Regions from separate parts of the Homo sapiens genome. Here region 1 is linked to region 2. The links come from fine-mapping of genetic effects on gene expression. Tissue or cell type: monocytes after R848. Region 2 holds a variant in brackets; the other region holds the start of a gene. All regions are shown on one strand. Distances are from middle to middle.

Region 1 (8,108 bases), 370 kb before region 2:
TACAAAGTTACAAGAACAATTCAATGGAGGAAGGACAGTCATAAAACAAGTGGTTCTAGTACAATTGAAAATCCAAATAAACACACAAGGAAACCTTGATCTTAACATTACAGTTTACACAAAATTTAACTCAAAATGGATCATAGACTTAAATGTAATTCATAAAATTATAAAATTTTTAGAGAAATAGGATAAATATTTAAGATTTAGAAGTATGCAAAGAGTGAAAAGGAAAATTGATTCAATATTGCTTTAAAAATTGATGTAAATAAACCTTTTGATCTGTGTAATACCCTGTGAAGGGGATAAAAAGATAAGTTATGGATTGAAAGAAAACATTTCCCAACCACATATCCGACAAAGGTATAGTATATAAAGAACACTCAAAACTAAAAAAAAAACAAACAAAAATTAATTAAAACATAAGCAAAAGACATTAAGAAATATTTCACCAAACAAAATATATAACTGAGAAATAAGCACATAAAAAGATACTCAACATCATTATCCATTAGGAAAATGCAAATTAAAACCAAAATGAGATATTGCTATACACCTATTGAAATAACTAAAGAGTAGTGACAACACCAAATGCTGGTGAGGATGCGGAGAAACTAGGGCCCTCACACATTTCTGGTAAGAAAGTAAAATGGTATAGTCACTCTGGAAGAATATCGCAGTTTCTTAAAATACTAAACGTGCAAATACATCTAGGATTAAAATACTAAACAAGCATTTATTAAAATACTAAACATACCATACAATCCAGGAATTAAACTTCTGTCTGTGCATTTATTCTAGAAAAATACTTCTATTCACACAAAACCTGTGCACAAATGTTTATAGCAACTTTATAACAGAGCTGGAAATAACTCAGATGTCCTTCAAAGGTGAATGGTTAAACAATCTGTAGTTTGAGTCCCAGATACTTCCTAGTTATGTGAAAGCACAGTTATTTTATTCCTTTTCCTACATTTTCTCTCTCGTAGAATAAGAATAATTGCGTCAATCTATTAAAGTTTTTGAGGGAATTAAATGAGTCAAAGTATGTAGAGCACTTAACATGGTGCTGGCACAAAGTACTCAGTAAAAATTAGCACCAATAGGGAGTGTAAATTAGTTCAACCATTGTAGAAGACAGTGCGGAGATTCTTCAAGGATCTAGAACCATAAATACAATTTGACCCAGCAATCCCATTACTGGGTATATACCCTATAAGTCATTCTACTATAAAGACACATGCACAGGTATGTTTATTACAGCACTGTTCACAATAGCAAAGACTTGGAACCAACCTAAATGCCCATCAATGATAGACTGGATAAAGAAAATGTAGCACATACACACCATGGAATACTATGCAGCCATAAAAAAGGATGAGTTCATGTCCTTTGCAGGGACATGGATGAAGCTGGAAGCCATCATTTTTAGCAAACTAACACAGGAACAGAAAACCAAACACCACATGTTCTCATAAGTGGGAGTTGAACAATGAGAACACATGGACACAGGGAAGAAACATCACACACTGGGGCCTGTCAGGGGTTGGGGGGCTAGGGGAAGGGATAGCATTAGGAGAAATGCCAAATGTAGGTGACGGGTTGATGGGTGCAGCAAACCACCATGGCACGTGTATACCTATGTAACCTGCATGTTCTGCATGTGTATCCCAGAACTTTAAAGTATAATAAAAAATAAAAATTACCACTAATAACACTTGCACAGCTTGTAGAAGATAGTCTTAAGATTATGAAATCCATCCTGGTTGTGTGGTACTGGTGTCGGGGATGGGAGCAAAAGCCTCTGTCTACCATTGCTTCTTTAATTGACTAGTTTGGGCAGCAAGAATACAAAAGCTAGACATGACACACTGTGTAAAAATCAGGAATGAAAAGCATGATGTGGTCAATAAGAAATGCAAATACATACAAAAATGCTAAATTGCCTTAGTGTAGAAAGATTGCCTGCTGGAAATAGGAACTATAAGTAAAACTCTGTGAGTGTGATTTTTAAAATATGATTTATTACAAAATTCCAGCAGCCAAACAAAAGAAAGATAGTCCCTCTAATAAAAACTGAACATAGCATTTCTTATCTATTATTTGTTTATTAGGGTTCTAATTAGCCAGACAGTGTCACTTAATTTCAACACATTTTATAAATAATTTGCCATATGTCTGTTAGTATTTACGATTTCCAGGCAGTTTGGAAAATGAACATATTTGAGGACTCTCTATTCATTGGTTAGCATGAAAACCCAAGGGATGCTACAGACACATTTGTTCCTAAATTGCATGTGCCTCTCTCTTTACCAGGAAAGTGATAATGGGAAAGAGCTGGTCTTAGGAGAAAGACCAGTGATGGAAAATATACTAGTCTTAGGAGAAAGACAATGTGGTTTGAGGTCCCATGTTCACCACCAAATTCCTGTTTGGCTTTGAGCAATTGTATTCACTTCTCTGAGCTTCAGCATTCTCCTCCATGGCACAAGGGGGCTTCACTAAATAACCTCCAGTTACCCACTAGTGCAATATTCTGCAATTTAACCGTATCTGTGATTCTAGACCACACTCGTCCCTAGAAGCCAGAGCACTCTGAGTGAAGGGAAGTAAAGGAACAGGGACTTAAGCATTCTTCTCTTTAGCAGATGGAGAATTTTGAAATGCCAACTCGCTCTTTTAAAAATTCTAGACTGTCTAAAGCATAGGCAAATTTCATGTTCTTAAAAATTCCTAGCTTGTGTCTTACACACACAGCGATGCAGATTTTAGATGGTGTGGGTGTTTCTTCTCTTGTAAAATGTTTCCTATGTCCATGTTTCTTCTTGGTATTCTGATAAGATCTGTAGGTACATACAAAGTTCACAATTACTCTACCAACCAACCAAAATCTTATGTAAAGATTTTCATGAAGTTAGTATGTTCACTTCTTTCCAACACCTTTTATTCCTAAGTTTGGTAATATTTCTTTTTTTTACTACCCTTAAAATCAACTTACTGCTCATTCTACCTTCTCTTTTATTTATGGACCCATCAATAATTATCCATCAATACAGCAACTTGCTCATGACATTTATGCCAATTAGTTGAGTTGTAGGTAACTTAATAAAAGGATTATACATGAAAATCTCATTTTAGGGTATGAATCGAAGCTATCAATAAGCCCATTACTAATTCTGATTTTCTGTAAGTTTGCACCATTCACATAATCTGCCACTATAATATATTGGTCCCACTTTCCTTATTTTGTATAATCAAACAGTAATCAATAAAAACTATGACTACTGCAAAATGAGACTTCTGAAGCTTTGAGGGCAAATTCATCATCAGCATGCATATAAAAGTCACTGTAGAGAGTCTTTTCTTTCTTAAGTGCCCTTGAAACCCAGCAGCTGAATCATATTTCAGGCCCCCCAAAGAGAACTGCAAGGTTATAATTGTCTCACACTTAATTACATGCATTACCAAAGGTAGATGGACAAAGTCATTTTGTACCATGCGTAGAGAATAAAAATCACCATGAATTTTGATATTGCTGGCTCATTGATTCACAGGAAGTAGAAATTTATGCAAGAACCATGTCTAACAATGTAAATGTTCAGCCAAGTCGAAGAACACTGCCTTCACTGTTCTGGGACTCGGCCTCACATTCACAGACTTGCTATTCTTCTCTTTCACTCTTGGGCCTAGCGAGGCAGCTTATTTTTCCTTTTTCTTTCATTGGTCACAGTTATTTCTTTTCAGTGTGTCATCTTCTCTAAGTTTCTGAGGGAGTGTTAGCTTGAGGCCTTGCCTTGACATAATCAGATATAATCAGAAAAATGAAAAATTCCATAGGAAAGAGAACTATTTTAGCCAAGGTGTGCGAGAGAAATACCGCCACTTTCAAGCACTGTTTTCTTCTACTGGAGTCTGCTCAATAGGGACGTCAGCTTTGCTGGGGTAAGTAAAAGCATCCTGGCCTTAACCTATATAATGGGGGAGTAATTGCCTCTTAGAATCATCAAGTCTAAGTTCTGAATTAGGCCCAGGATATGACTACTTTTCTTTACACTGCATTTGAAATTTCATTTGGCTTTCTGGGTGCGAGATCCACATTTCTTTTCTAACAGAATGTTTTATTTTTCGTCAATTGATTTCATTATGATAAGCTGATGGCAAATGCTACTTCCTCACTCAACAGGGCTTGCAGTCTGAATGTGCCTGAATACATTTTATGATAAATAATATATCCTGCTATCCTGCATTCATCCAGTGCAGCCTGAGGAAGCAGATGGAGTTACAGCCTTCTTCTCAAAGCAGAAAGAAACTATAGCTTTGAGGAAGAGAATGAGATCATTACATGGCTTCCCAATTTCATCTTGATAAACTCTGAAGCTGCCATATTGCAGTAGTTTTCAACTATAGGTGGGAAGCTTGACTTTCCTTTGAGTTCAAAGGAGAAAACTGTTGCTTAAAGAAAAATGTGTTTTTTCCCTAAGTATGAGTTACTCCTTCCAGAAAAAAAATAAAAAAGCCCCATGCATGCAGGTCTGTGATGAATACATTTAGGACAGTCCTGTGGCCTGCTATTAAGGCTGGAGTGACACTATCCCTAACCCTAAGGTGAAAAGTAATGTTAAAAATAAAAATTATACTGAGCTGCTAGTTATTTTGCCTACAGGAGTGCATGCCTGTGTCTGGTGGAACTTGGTTTTTCTCTGAATTTGCCAGGCAATTTTCTCTGAATTTGCCAGGTAGGCAGAGGAGAATTTGAAAACTGTAGAGAGGAGCTTGACCTCCCAAAGCCAATCTGGCACTCTGCTACTTCCTTCTTCCACAGTTTCTTCTCTGTTTCCAGATCTTGCAAATGTACAGTCAAGACTGCTTGGAGTATTATTCCATTAACAGACATACAGTTACATTAAGCCATTAATCAGGCAGATCACAGATGTTGTTTTCTGTCTAGATGTTACTATAATTACTCTTAATAACACCCACTGAGTTTGTCATTTCATCCATTGATGACTTTTTAAAAAATTCTTGGAAAATTCATTTCTTACAGCCTAATTATATGGATTTAAGGGTTCAGGATCTCTCCTCAGGTTTTCATCATGTATTTTTTAAAGAGTATAGCAGTATAACATCACATATGGGTGGATTAATAGGCTCTTGAGAAACTGAAGGTTGAAACCCACATGCTGACTTTTTACAGTTAAATCATACTCCTCTCGTGCTAAACGATGAGCCTTATCTTTTGAAGCATGTGATACTGATAAGTCCAGTGAAGGAGGCTGCCTTTCAAAGGAACGGAGCTCTGAGGAATGGAATGGAACTTAGTCTAGCTGCCTAGTTTACAGATGATAAAACTAGGACCTAGAGAAATGAAGTCTGAATTACTGAGAGAAAAGGACACCAGAGTCCAAGGCTCAGAGCTCTCAATCCAGTGTTGCTTCTTCTTGTTTATTTTGTTTTGTTTTGAGATGGAGTCTTGCTCTGTCACCCAGGCTGGCGTGCAGTGGCGCAATCTCAGCTCAATGCAACCTCTGCCTCCTGGATTCAAGCAATTCTCCCATCTCAGCCTCCCAAGTAGCTAGGATTACAGGCATGCACCACCATGCCTGGCTAATTTTTGTTTTGTTTTTTGTTTTTTGTTTTTTAGTAGAGACGGAGTTTCACCATGTTGGCCAGGCTGGTCTCGAACTCCTGACCTCAGGTGATCCGCCCACAGCCTCCCAAAGTGCTGGGATTACAAGCGTAAGCACCGCACCTGGCCCAGTGTTGCTTCTACTACCACTTTCATTCTTCAAACAGCTTCTGCCATGTCAGAAGGGAATGAAAATTTCTTTTGTGACTCAAAAGTAAACTAAAACTCGTTGGATTCCTGAGACTGATTCTACCCATTTACCCACTCTCCTTAAAGTAAAACTTAGCCAGGCATTCTTAAATTTTGCTTTGAACCTAGGGAGTTCTAGCTTTTCTGCTGATTAAATGTCACTGATTTCTCATTTTCTGGTGACATTGTTTTACAATTCTTTTAACTACAAAGTTTAAGTTTCTGGAGCCTTTTCTTCTTTTCATTTTTTATAAAATACCCTTTTATTAAGAGATGAAGTTGGGTAGTCAGAATAGGAGTGGGTATTGTTTAGTAGAAAAAAAACGGGCTTTGGAATAAAACTTGCATATGAATTACAGTTCTGCTTCCTATAATTGTGTAACCTTGGCAAGTTACTGCGCCTGTCAAATGCTCACATTAAAAGAGTGTGTGTGTGTGTGTGTGTGTGTAATTGCCAGTACAATTCAATAATTGGCCCACAGAAGGCACTTAATAATTGCTAGTTACTACTAAGAGAACCAGATGAGAAAGAATATTAATGGATATGGCATTTTTTGTTTATTAAGTACTGTCTTAAACGTCTGGAGAAAAGAAGGAGAATCTCATTTTCTGCTTTCGTTATTAGTGATCACTGGCTGCTGTTGCCAATGCAGGGAGCCTTGCAGATAGTTAGCAGCCTGAAAACAACTTGTATTATTTGAGAGGAGGTACTTTTGTCTCTTAGATAAAGTTTTTGCAGGTCGCTCTGGTATGGTGCAGTATCAATCTGAACTCATTAAGTTGAAGAAGTGACACAGGAACACAAGAATACATTGTTTCTTTGCCTCATCTGCTTAATTAAAAATTCCAGATCCCTCCACTCACAAGCAAGATTGATGGTGAAATCTTCACACACATGCTACCGTATGTTCTCTACCTCCTCCTCCCCAAGTACAACCTAGAGCAGTGGTTCCCAAATATGCTTCCTGGGCCGGCTGTATCAGAATTACTCGGGAACTATTAGAAGGGCAAAACCTCAGGCCCTGCCGCAGACATGCTGAGTCAGAAACTCGGGATCACTCAGAAATCTGTTTTAAATAGGCCTTCAGGTGATTCTGATGGAGTTCCAGAACCATGACCTGGAGAACATGCCCAGTTACTATATGTACTGCAGTGTTTCTCAAAGTGAAGAACAGGTACCATGATAGAACCAAAAATGATCTTAGGTAGGACAAAGATGACTTTAGGTGATACTCACGTATTATATCAAATAGCTAGATCACATAGTAAAAGTTTTCCCTCTCAACTCTCTTTCCATCATTAAGTCTCATTTTGGTATGACTAGACCTTTAATACCTCTCTACCCATTGCTAATCTCCCATTTCAACAAAGAGAGCTGGATGCAATTTTGATGTCTTTAGGTAGCAGCAGGGTCCAGCTAAAACTCAGCAATAGTTTTCTTCTCTTTATGGCATGCTATTTAAATGGTGATAAACTTTTCCTTTATAAATGTTTACATTAATTAATCAAAAAAGTTAAAATACAGTTGGCACGTGGATTAGCAAAATTATGTCAGTGATATGGCAGTGAATGTATTTAGAGAAATGCTGGTATGCTAGAAAGAACCTAGTTACATCAGTGCTTTAATTTCATTTGTGCCATTTATTAGCTGTGCTATTTTCTTAGCTGTGCTACTTTTGTAAGCCTCAATTTTCTCATCTATCAAATGGGAGTGATACCAACATCATAGAAATGGTATAAGAACTTATGAATGGAATATGCCTCCTGTAACCCTCAGAACATAGTAGGAACTTGCTACATCCTTATTCTCTCAAATCTCACTTTGAAGTCAGGTTTCTGTGTGGCCTTCTCAATAGCATTTCTGTTGGGGCTTCAGATTCTTCATTTGTAATGTGACAGTAAAGACTTGAAGATCTGAAAGGTTCCTTCCAGCTCTTAACTAATATGTATTTACACATGTGTATTGTATGTGTGTATGTTTACATATAGTGTAAATTCTGCATATAAGTATGACTTAGGCATAAATAGTTATTTTCCCCAGGCATAAACCTGGAGTGTGCAGGGATAATATTGAAAATAGATGGCTGTGTTGGAAAAATAAAAAATCAAATTGTGAGAGATGTGGGCGCTGATATACATATCAGAGCTCAAAGGTAATTTCATTGTATTTTACCATCATCTGTCAAACTTAAAGCAATACCGACACTAGAAAATAGATTTTTGCAGAGGTTTCTGAGGACAATGGTTTCCATGAGCTGGTGTAAATATATTCAGAGAGACTTGTTCCTACTTA
Region 2 (8,108 bases):
CCACCTCATCCCATTAATGTGAGCTGATAAATCATGACCTTCCTTTGTTATCAGAGGATGGCAAATCAATACTTCCATTATCATTATTATTACTCCCAAGGCACCTCTCTAGCAGCATGTGAGCTATTCTCTCCCAAGCACAGAGCCGAAAGGATGGCTAATCTGCTTCTGAGACCCCATCAATCACAACAGGAAGAGAAAGGATGAATTGGGAAGAAGAAACATAATAGTACGGAGGGGGAAAACAGCATTTGAAAAAGCCTGGAATAGTTGCTCTAAGTGTCGTCCTAGGACCTCCTTGATGACATTCAGTGAGTGATGGTTAAAATGACAGATACTTTGGAAATGCCTAGTCTGTGGGTCAGGGGCATGACCTGCCTTAATTGACAACTTCTTCAAGCGGTTTTATGCACCTAAAGTTTGCACATTAAAAACCTAGAAATCTACTATTCACCGGTGGAAATATCACTTGTAACCATCTTGAAGTTTTGGGGTCCTGCTGTTCATCTCTCAGAAATAAGTTTTGCGGAATACTTGCATGCATACTTGTAGGAGTGGGCCAGCATCTTTCATGTCAATGTCAGCTATATTTCAGTTCCAGGGGAATGCAGATGTCCCTTGATTGACCCTATCAGTACTAAAACTTTAGTGTGCATAAAAGTCAGCCAAAGGGTTGGTAAAACAGAAATTGCTGGGCCCTACCCCTAGAGTTTTCTATTCAGGAGGTCTTGAGTGGGGCCTGAAAATTTACATTTCTAAAAAGTTCACAGGTTGGTTAGCTAATCCAAAAGTCATTCCCAGGCCAAGCGTGGTGGCTCATGCCTGTAATCCCAACACTTTGGGAGGCCAAGGTGGGCGAATCACCTGCAGTCAGGAGTTTAAGACCAGCTTGGCCAACATGGTGAAATCCCGTCTCTACTAAAAATATAAAAATTACCCAGGCATGGTAGCAGGCGCCTGTAATCCCAGCTACTTGGGAGGCTGAGGCAAGAGAATTGCTTGAACCCAGGAGGCGGAGGTTGCAGTGAGCCAAGATCATGCCACTGCACTCCAGCCTGGGTGACAGAGTGACTCAAAAAAAAAAAAAAAAAAGTCACAGGTGATACTGATGCTGCTGCTCCAAGAAACACATTTAAAAACCACTGGCACACATGGATGGATTTTTGGAGAGAGTTCTTTTTTTATTTAGGCAGAAAAGCATGATTAAGGGAGAGGGGAAAAAAATCACTTGCAATCTTAACACCCACTACCCACTGGATATCCATACACTTACACGGATACACACACACTTCTCCTCGTGCAAAAAAAAAAAGAATCACACTACATATTACCCTGTGCCTATCTTCTTCATGGGACAACAAATCAGGGCTCTCTCTCCACTCCTCCATGACCCACCTCTATGGCATACTGTCTAATAAATGCACAGCATGAGTACTGTCTGGACTCATCACAATTGGGTGTTATATTGTCTTCAATAACTTTATTGTTGTAACCAAACATGTTCTGTGTTAAGTCAAACAATAGAGAAAAATACAACCAAAAAGAAAAACACATCTCAAATCCCACCACGTCAGAGATAACCATTGTTAGCAAATTGATGTACATCTTTCAACACACGTATTCCTACATACATTTATTATTTTACATAAACTGAATCATAGACACCAAGTTATTTTGCAACATGCTTTTTCCACTTACATAAACCAAGTTTTGGTAAAGCAAATACAACCTCAAAAATCTTTGAGAAATGTACTATCTAATGGAATCTTAACACAAATTCTCTATGAAATGAAGCATTCTTTTATACAGTGAATTTCTGCCTACTCCTCACAGATACACTAGGTTAATTTTTTAATGTGTGTGTGTATCTGTGAATTCCATATTTCATTTATTAGGTTTGCTTTAGGAAGAGTGCCCCTGAAATAAAAATGAGCCTTTTGTACTAAATCGGAGTTCTGAGCCAAAGTCAGTGTCCACAGCACAGAGGAGCTGAAACCCAGAGCATTTGGAGCTTCTAGTATATATTCTGGATTTTCTCCATCAGTCTAGGACTGAAGACACCGATCTCTGGTGTCGGTTGAGATTTCACCAAGGTTCTGGTTCTGGAATGAGTCACTGGCTAAGGGTCTGATAAGCAAAGGGCGGAAGTGGGCAGAGTGTGAGAAGGGTGGGGGAGGTCCTTGATCTGATCAGTACAACCCAGAGAACACACCCATGTCCCACACGCTTGCGAGGGGGCCTTCATAATAACCAAGCACCCCTTTCCATCTGTAGAACATGGTTACGTGTTTTTCAATTTGCCATCCTGTTGTTAATTTGTCCCCGTTTTCCAGATGAGGCTTGGTGAGATTCACTGAGATCATGCATACAAAGAAAGCCCTGAGCACAGTGCTTGGCACATAGTGGGCACTCAGTAAACCTCGGTGTCACTGAGAAGACAGAATGAGAATGAGCATGCTGTGGAGTCTTTCACCTGCCTCTCCTCTGGGACAGGTTACTCTTTCATTCTGTAGACTGTAATGACATGGAAATTCCAAGATACCAAGAGACAATGATGAATCAAAGATGAGTTCCCAAAAGACAAATCACATCCCTTATTCCCCATCAAATCTAAAGCCTAATAAAGTCCATATAGCACTCATGAGGCCTCTAACCTTCTGCCTAAAAGTGATCATCATCACAGCAAACCTGAGCCTCAGAAAGGACCTAGCTTACTTGGTGACAGAGGAGGGCAACAGAAGGACTTGGCCCATGGCACCCAGCTGACCATGTCAGCAAATAGAGAGGCCTTCAAAGCCTTTGCATTCCTGTTCCCTGGAGAAACTGAGGATTGCAGTAAAGTGTAATTACAACCTCTTTTTGCCTTGTTTGAAATACAAAGGGACAATGTAGCCCTAATATATTTATAGAAGGAAGTAGAGATCAAATAAAGGAAGAGGGGGACCAAAAGAAGGGCATATCCATGTTTCTCATCTTCTTTCACTGCAGATCTTAAAAAGGAACCAGAAGCCTCAGCAGTCCCTGCTAAAGAATCATTGTCACATTCTATTAGTTCCCTCTGATCCCGTGAAGAGGGGGGAAAAATCATTGCATGGCAATGCCATGTGTCTCAAGCTTCATTAAAGTGATTTCTCCCAAGAGTCTCGTATAACAGCATGTAAAGCACTTACAACAGTACCTGAATCATCGTAAGTAATCAATAAATGTAAACGAGTAGCAGCAGCAGCAAGAGAGACTTGCTGAGATCATTCATTTAGCTACTTGGAACCCTGCTTAGCATAGAATTCAAGTCTTTTCACAATCAAATGAGTGTTTCTCACAGGAACTCACACTCCTTATACCTTCAGAGCCTGAGACTCTGCCTTCTGTCTCCAGTCTTCCAAGCTCTTCAGCAGACTGAAAAAGTTCTTCAGGATCTACTCTCTCCAGGTCCTCAAGCCCACGATGACAGAGATATCCCAGCTGAAGAACTGAATTTCAGAGGTCTGACACTGACACAACCCATGGAATTCAGTTCTCAAAGCTGAGGATACACATCGGCTTTTCAGAGATGGTGCAAAGACCCCTCCTTGCAGTCCAGGCCTGTCCCAGCCCTGTAAAATACAAGAGTGAAAAGCCTGGTAAATCCAATGCAGCTGCTTCCTAGTACCAGGTCTAGTCCTGGCACTCATGAGTTATAAACATCTGGAGGAGACCAGGCCAGCAGTCTGGAAGGCTGATGTGGGTGGATCTCTTGAGCCCAGGAGTTCAGGACTAGCCTGGGCAACATGGAGAATTTGTCTCTACTAAAAATAAAAAATGAGCCATGCATGATGGCCTGTGGTGGGAGGATCGCTTGAGCCTGGGAATTGGAGGTTGCAGTGAGCTATGATTGCACCACTGCACTCCAGTCTGGGCCACAGAGAGAGACCCTGTCAAAACAAAAACTAATCTGTAGGGGATGTGTATGGTAGACACACACATCATTAAGCATCATTAAACATGGTAGCTGGCCTTTCCTGCCTCATGACCCTTCCATATGCCATCCCTCTGGCCTGGAAAACTCGTTCCTCTCTTTAACATCAACTTATCCTGATGTTCTTGCTTTCAATGTCACTTCCTCAGAGAGGCCATCTATGGCAGAGATTGCTGATTGTTTGCCCAATATATATTCTCTCCTCCTTCTATACTAATAGAACCCTTAAGTGGTATCTGAACACATGGACATCTGACTTTGTTTCCTCACCTGGTGTGACAAAGTGCTGGATATGAGCAGGAGTGGAGAGTTTTTTACTGTTTCCCTCCCTCTTCTCAGGCTTGGACTGTAGACATGGT[A/G]GAGAGCCACTGTGGACCATGCAAATGAGTGCAGCCCCCCAGGGAACAGCAGAGCAGCATGCCAGAAGAGCCCCAAAAGTGTGAGGCTTCCTTATACACCCTAGACTGCTTACACCTGCACTGATAGATCAGCAAGAATGGAACATTTACCTTATTTAAGCCACTGTTACTTGGGGATCTCTGTAAGAGCACTTGAATGTTTACCTACCACTCCCTCACCATCAGCCTCCAGCTAGTCTCTTTCATAATATGGGATTCTTTCCTTCACCGTAATTTGTAATTGTTAGATAATTTTGTATAATTATTTGATTAAAATTATCTCTCCAACAAGACTGTTTTCCATAAGCATAGAGACCATGCTAGTGTTTTTTAAATATGTATATAGGCGAGATGTGGTGACTCACACCTGTAATCTCGGAACTTTGGGAGGCTGAGGCAGGCAGATCACCTGAGGTCAGGAGTTCAAGTTTCACTTGGCTAACATGGTGAAACCCCGTCTCTAACAAAAATACAAAAATTCGCCAGGCATGGTGGCGCACACCTGTAGTCCCAGCTACTTGGGAGGCTGAGGCAGAAGAATCACTTGAACCCAGGAGGCAGAGGTTGCAGTGAGCTAAGATTGCACAACTGCACTCCAGGCTGGGTGACAAAGCGAGACTCTGTCTCTAAAAAATAATAATAAAATAAAATAAGTATATAATAGCCTTATTGAGCTATAGCTATATAGCTCACACACCAGAAAATTTACCTATTTAAAGTAAAAAATGCATTGGTTTTTAGTATTTTGCAGAGTTGTACAACCATCATAATCAATTCCAGAACATTTTCATCATCCCCAAAATAGATCCCATAACCATTAACAGTCAATCTCCATTCCCCTCCCTCACCCCTGGGGAATCACTGATCTACGTTCTGTCTATATATATGCTGGACATCTTATATAAATGAAATCATATAATCAGCGGCCTTTTGTGACTGGCTTCTTTCACTTAGCTTTCAGGATATATCCATGTTTTAATGCGTATCAGTACATCCTTCCTATGGATGAATAATATTCCATCGTTAGGATCTACCACATTTCATTTATCCATTCATCAGCTGATGGGCATTTGGGTTGTTGCTACCTTTTGCCTATTTGATGCTTCTATGAATGAATACCCATGTACAAGTTTTGTATGGACATATGTTTGCATTTCTCATGGATGTGTGAACCCAAAAGTATCTGAGACAGACCTGAATCCATTTAGGAAGTTTATTTTGCCAAGGTTAAGAACATGCCTGTCACACAGCCTCAGAAGGTCCTGACAACATTGTGCCCAAGGTGGTCGGGGCACAGCTTGGTTTTATACATTATAGGGAAACATGAGACATCAATCAGTATATGTAAGATGTACATTGGTTCAGTCTGGAGAGCTGGGACAACTAGAAGCAGGGGTGGGGGCTTCCAGATCATAGGTAGATACAAGACAAACTGTTGCATTTTTTTGTCTCTGGTTAGCCTTTTACTGAATACACAATTTACATGTGAGAGGAGGGTAGAGGAATAGTCACTTATTCCTTAGTCTGGCTTAGTGAAATAATAGGGCAGAAGAAGCAATCAGATATGCATTGGTCTCACATGAGCAAAAGAATGACTGAATTCTGTCTGTCCTTTGTCCACAAGGAATTTCCTAGTGGGCAAATTGTGAGGGAGGTATGTAGCTTTTTTATCTTTGTAGCTAGCTTACGTAGGAATAAAATGGGAGGCAGGTTTGCCTCACACAGTTCCCAGTTTGACTTCCCTTTGGCTTAGTGATTTTGGGAGTTCTGAGATCTATTTTCCTTTCACAGACGTATACCTAAGTGTGGAATTTCTGTGTCATATGTTAACTCTATGGCTATCAGTTGATGAATGGCCAGACTGTTTTCCAAAGCGGCCACACTATTTTACAATTCCACCAGCAGTGTATGAGGGTTCCAGTTTCTCCACATCTTGCCAATACTTGTTAATGTCTATCTTTTGAGTATAGTTATCCTAGTAGGTGTGAAGTGGTATCTCACTACGGTTTTGATTTGCATTTCCCTGATGGCTAATGATGTTGAGTATCTCTTCATGTGCTTACTGGCCATTTATATAGCTTCTTTGGAGAAATGTCTATTCAGATTTTTTTGTCAATTTTGTAATTGAGTTGTTTGTATTTTTATTATTGAGTTGTAAGGGTTCTGTATATATTCTAGATACAAGTCCCACATGTATAATTTGCAAATATTTTCTCCCATTCTTTGGGTGGCTTTTTAACTTTCTTAATGGGGTGTGTGCATGTGTTTTGTGTAACATTATTTCCAGCTTCTAGCATGATGTCTTGATCATAGTAGGCACTCCAGTGATGGATGGATGGAAGGATGGAAGGAAGGAAGAAAGGGAGGGAGGGAGGCGGGGAGGGGAGGAAGGGAGGGAGGCTAGGTCTCAGTTATGCAGGCTTCCATCACAACTGTCCCAGCACTGACTGACAGCTAGGTTAAACATTAAAAGTTGATTGAGCCAGTGCCCTTATACAAAGTCTGGAATGCAACAAAAGCCCACCAAGAGTTTTGCCTGGACACTAAAGCATGACAAAATAACGAAGGAATTCTTAACAGGACCCATTTAGGATTAAACAAGTTTTAATGGGGGTCTGAAGAAACTCCCCAGGCCTCCACAAACAGGTTTATTGGGGGCCTAAAGGAACTCCCCAAACCTCCATGATTTAGCAGGGGACAAGATAAGTAATCACCCCAGCACCTGGACCCATTTAGATTAAGTAAATTTACTGAGGCTCTAGAGGAAGGTCTTCAGGACTCAGACCTTAGTTACAGATTAAAAGAAATTAATCACTAATGTCTTTAGATGAACGCACACTTACATGTAGACATATAGCTTAGAAAACTTTGTAATTTTGAGTTGGTCTAGTGATAATTTCTGGGCCTTCTCCCTGTAACTGGTTACAGAAATAAAAACTCTCTTCCTTCCCAGTTCATCTGCATCTCGTTATTGGGCTGTGAGAAACAGCAGCCTGACCCTCAGTTTGGTCCAGGAACAGGAGGGAGGGAGAAAAGGAAGGGAGGGAGGGAGAGAGGGAAGGGAGGGAGGGAGAGAAGGGAAGGGAGGGAGGGAACTTACTTTTACAAACCACACAGTTTAATTTCCTTATTTTAAAGATGGGGAAACTGAAAAGTTAAAAACATTAAGATGACAACATGATGAGATAATAAAAACAAGGTGATAGGCTGGGCACGGTGGCTCATGTCTGTACTCCCAGCACTTTGGGTGGCAGAGGTGAGGGGATCATAAGGTCAGGAGTTTGAGACCAGCCTGGCCAACATGGTGAAACCCCATCTCTACTAAAAATACAAAAATTAGCTGAGCATGATGGCACGCACTTGTAGTCCCAGCTACTCAGGAGGCTGAGGCAGGAGGAATGCTTGAACCTGGGAGGTGGAGGTTGTAGTGAGCTGAGATCGTGCCACTGCACTCCAGCCTGGGTAACAAAGTGAGACTGTCTCAAAAAAAAAAAAAAAAAAAAAGGTGATAGAAGTTAAAACTGGGTTTTAGCCCTAGCTTGTCTCCTACCAGCTATGGGAACTAGGCAGGTCATATAACCTCTCTACACATCAGAGACCTCCTCAGAAATGGTCCTCTCTCACCAATCAGGTATTGGAAGGAGCAAAGTAAACTAATCTATGAGAAACCACTGTTTGAACATGAGTTATAATTGAGGCCGAAGGTCAAATAGCTAAATCAGCCTGGTCAGAAAATGATGGCAGGTGGCCCAATT

Alleles and levels. Positions count from the first base shown, and alleles are read on the strand shown. Sizes are in standard deviations (SD) of each study's normalised expression.
In carriers of allele A in region 2, the expression in monocytes after R848 of the gene that starts at base 3,672 in region 1 tends to be higher than with G alone (moderate effect, 0.52 SD a copy in Quach 2016).

The links. PIP is the estimated chance that this variant, and not a neighbour inherited with it, causes the effect.
Region 1: ATP10B starts here. The variant in region 2 is fine-mapped to the expression of ATP10B in monocytes after R848 (Quach 2016, PIP 0.95).

The regions. Positions count from the first base shown.
Region 1 is chr5:160,847,775-160,855,882 of GRCh38, reverse strand. It overlaps ATP10B (ATPase phospholipid transporting 10B (putative)), which reads left to right and starts at 3,672. Exons shown (of 26, transcript NM_025153.3): 1 at 3,672-3,942.
Region 2 is chr5:160,480,784-160,488,891 of GRCh38, reverse strand. It overlaps MIR3142HG (MIR3142 host gene), which reads right to left. Exons shown (of 2, transcript NR_132748.1): 2 at 1,466-3,593. It overlaps MIR146A (microRNA 146a), which reads right to left and starts at 3,540; the gene lies at 3,442-3,540. The variant A/G (reference allele first, on the strand shown) is at 4,315.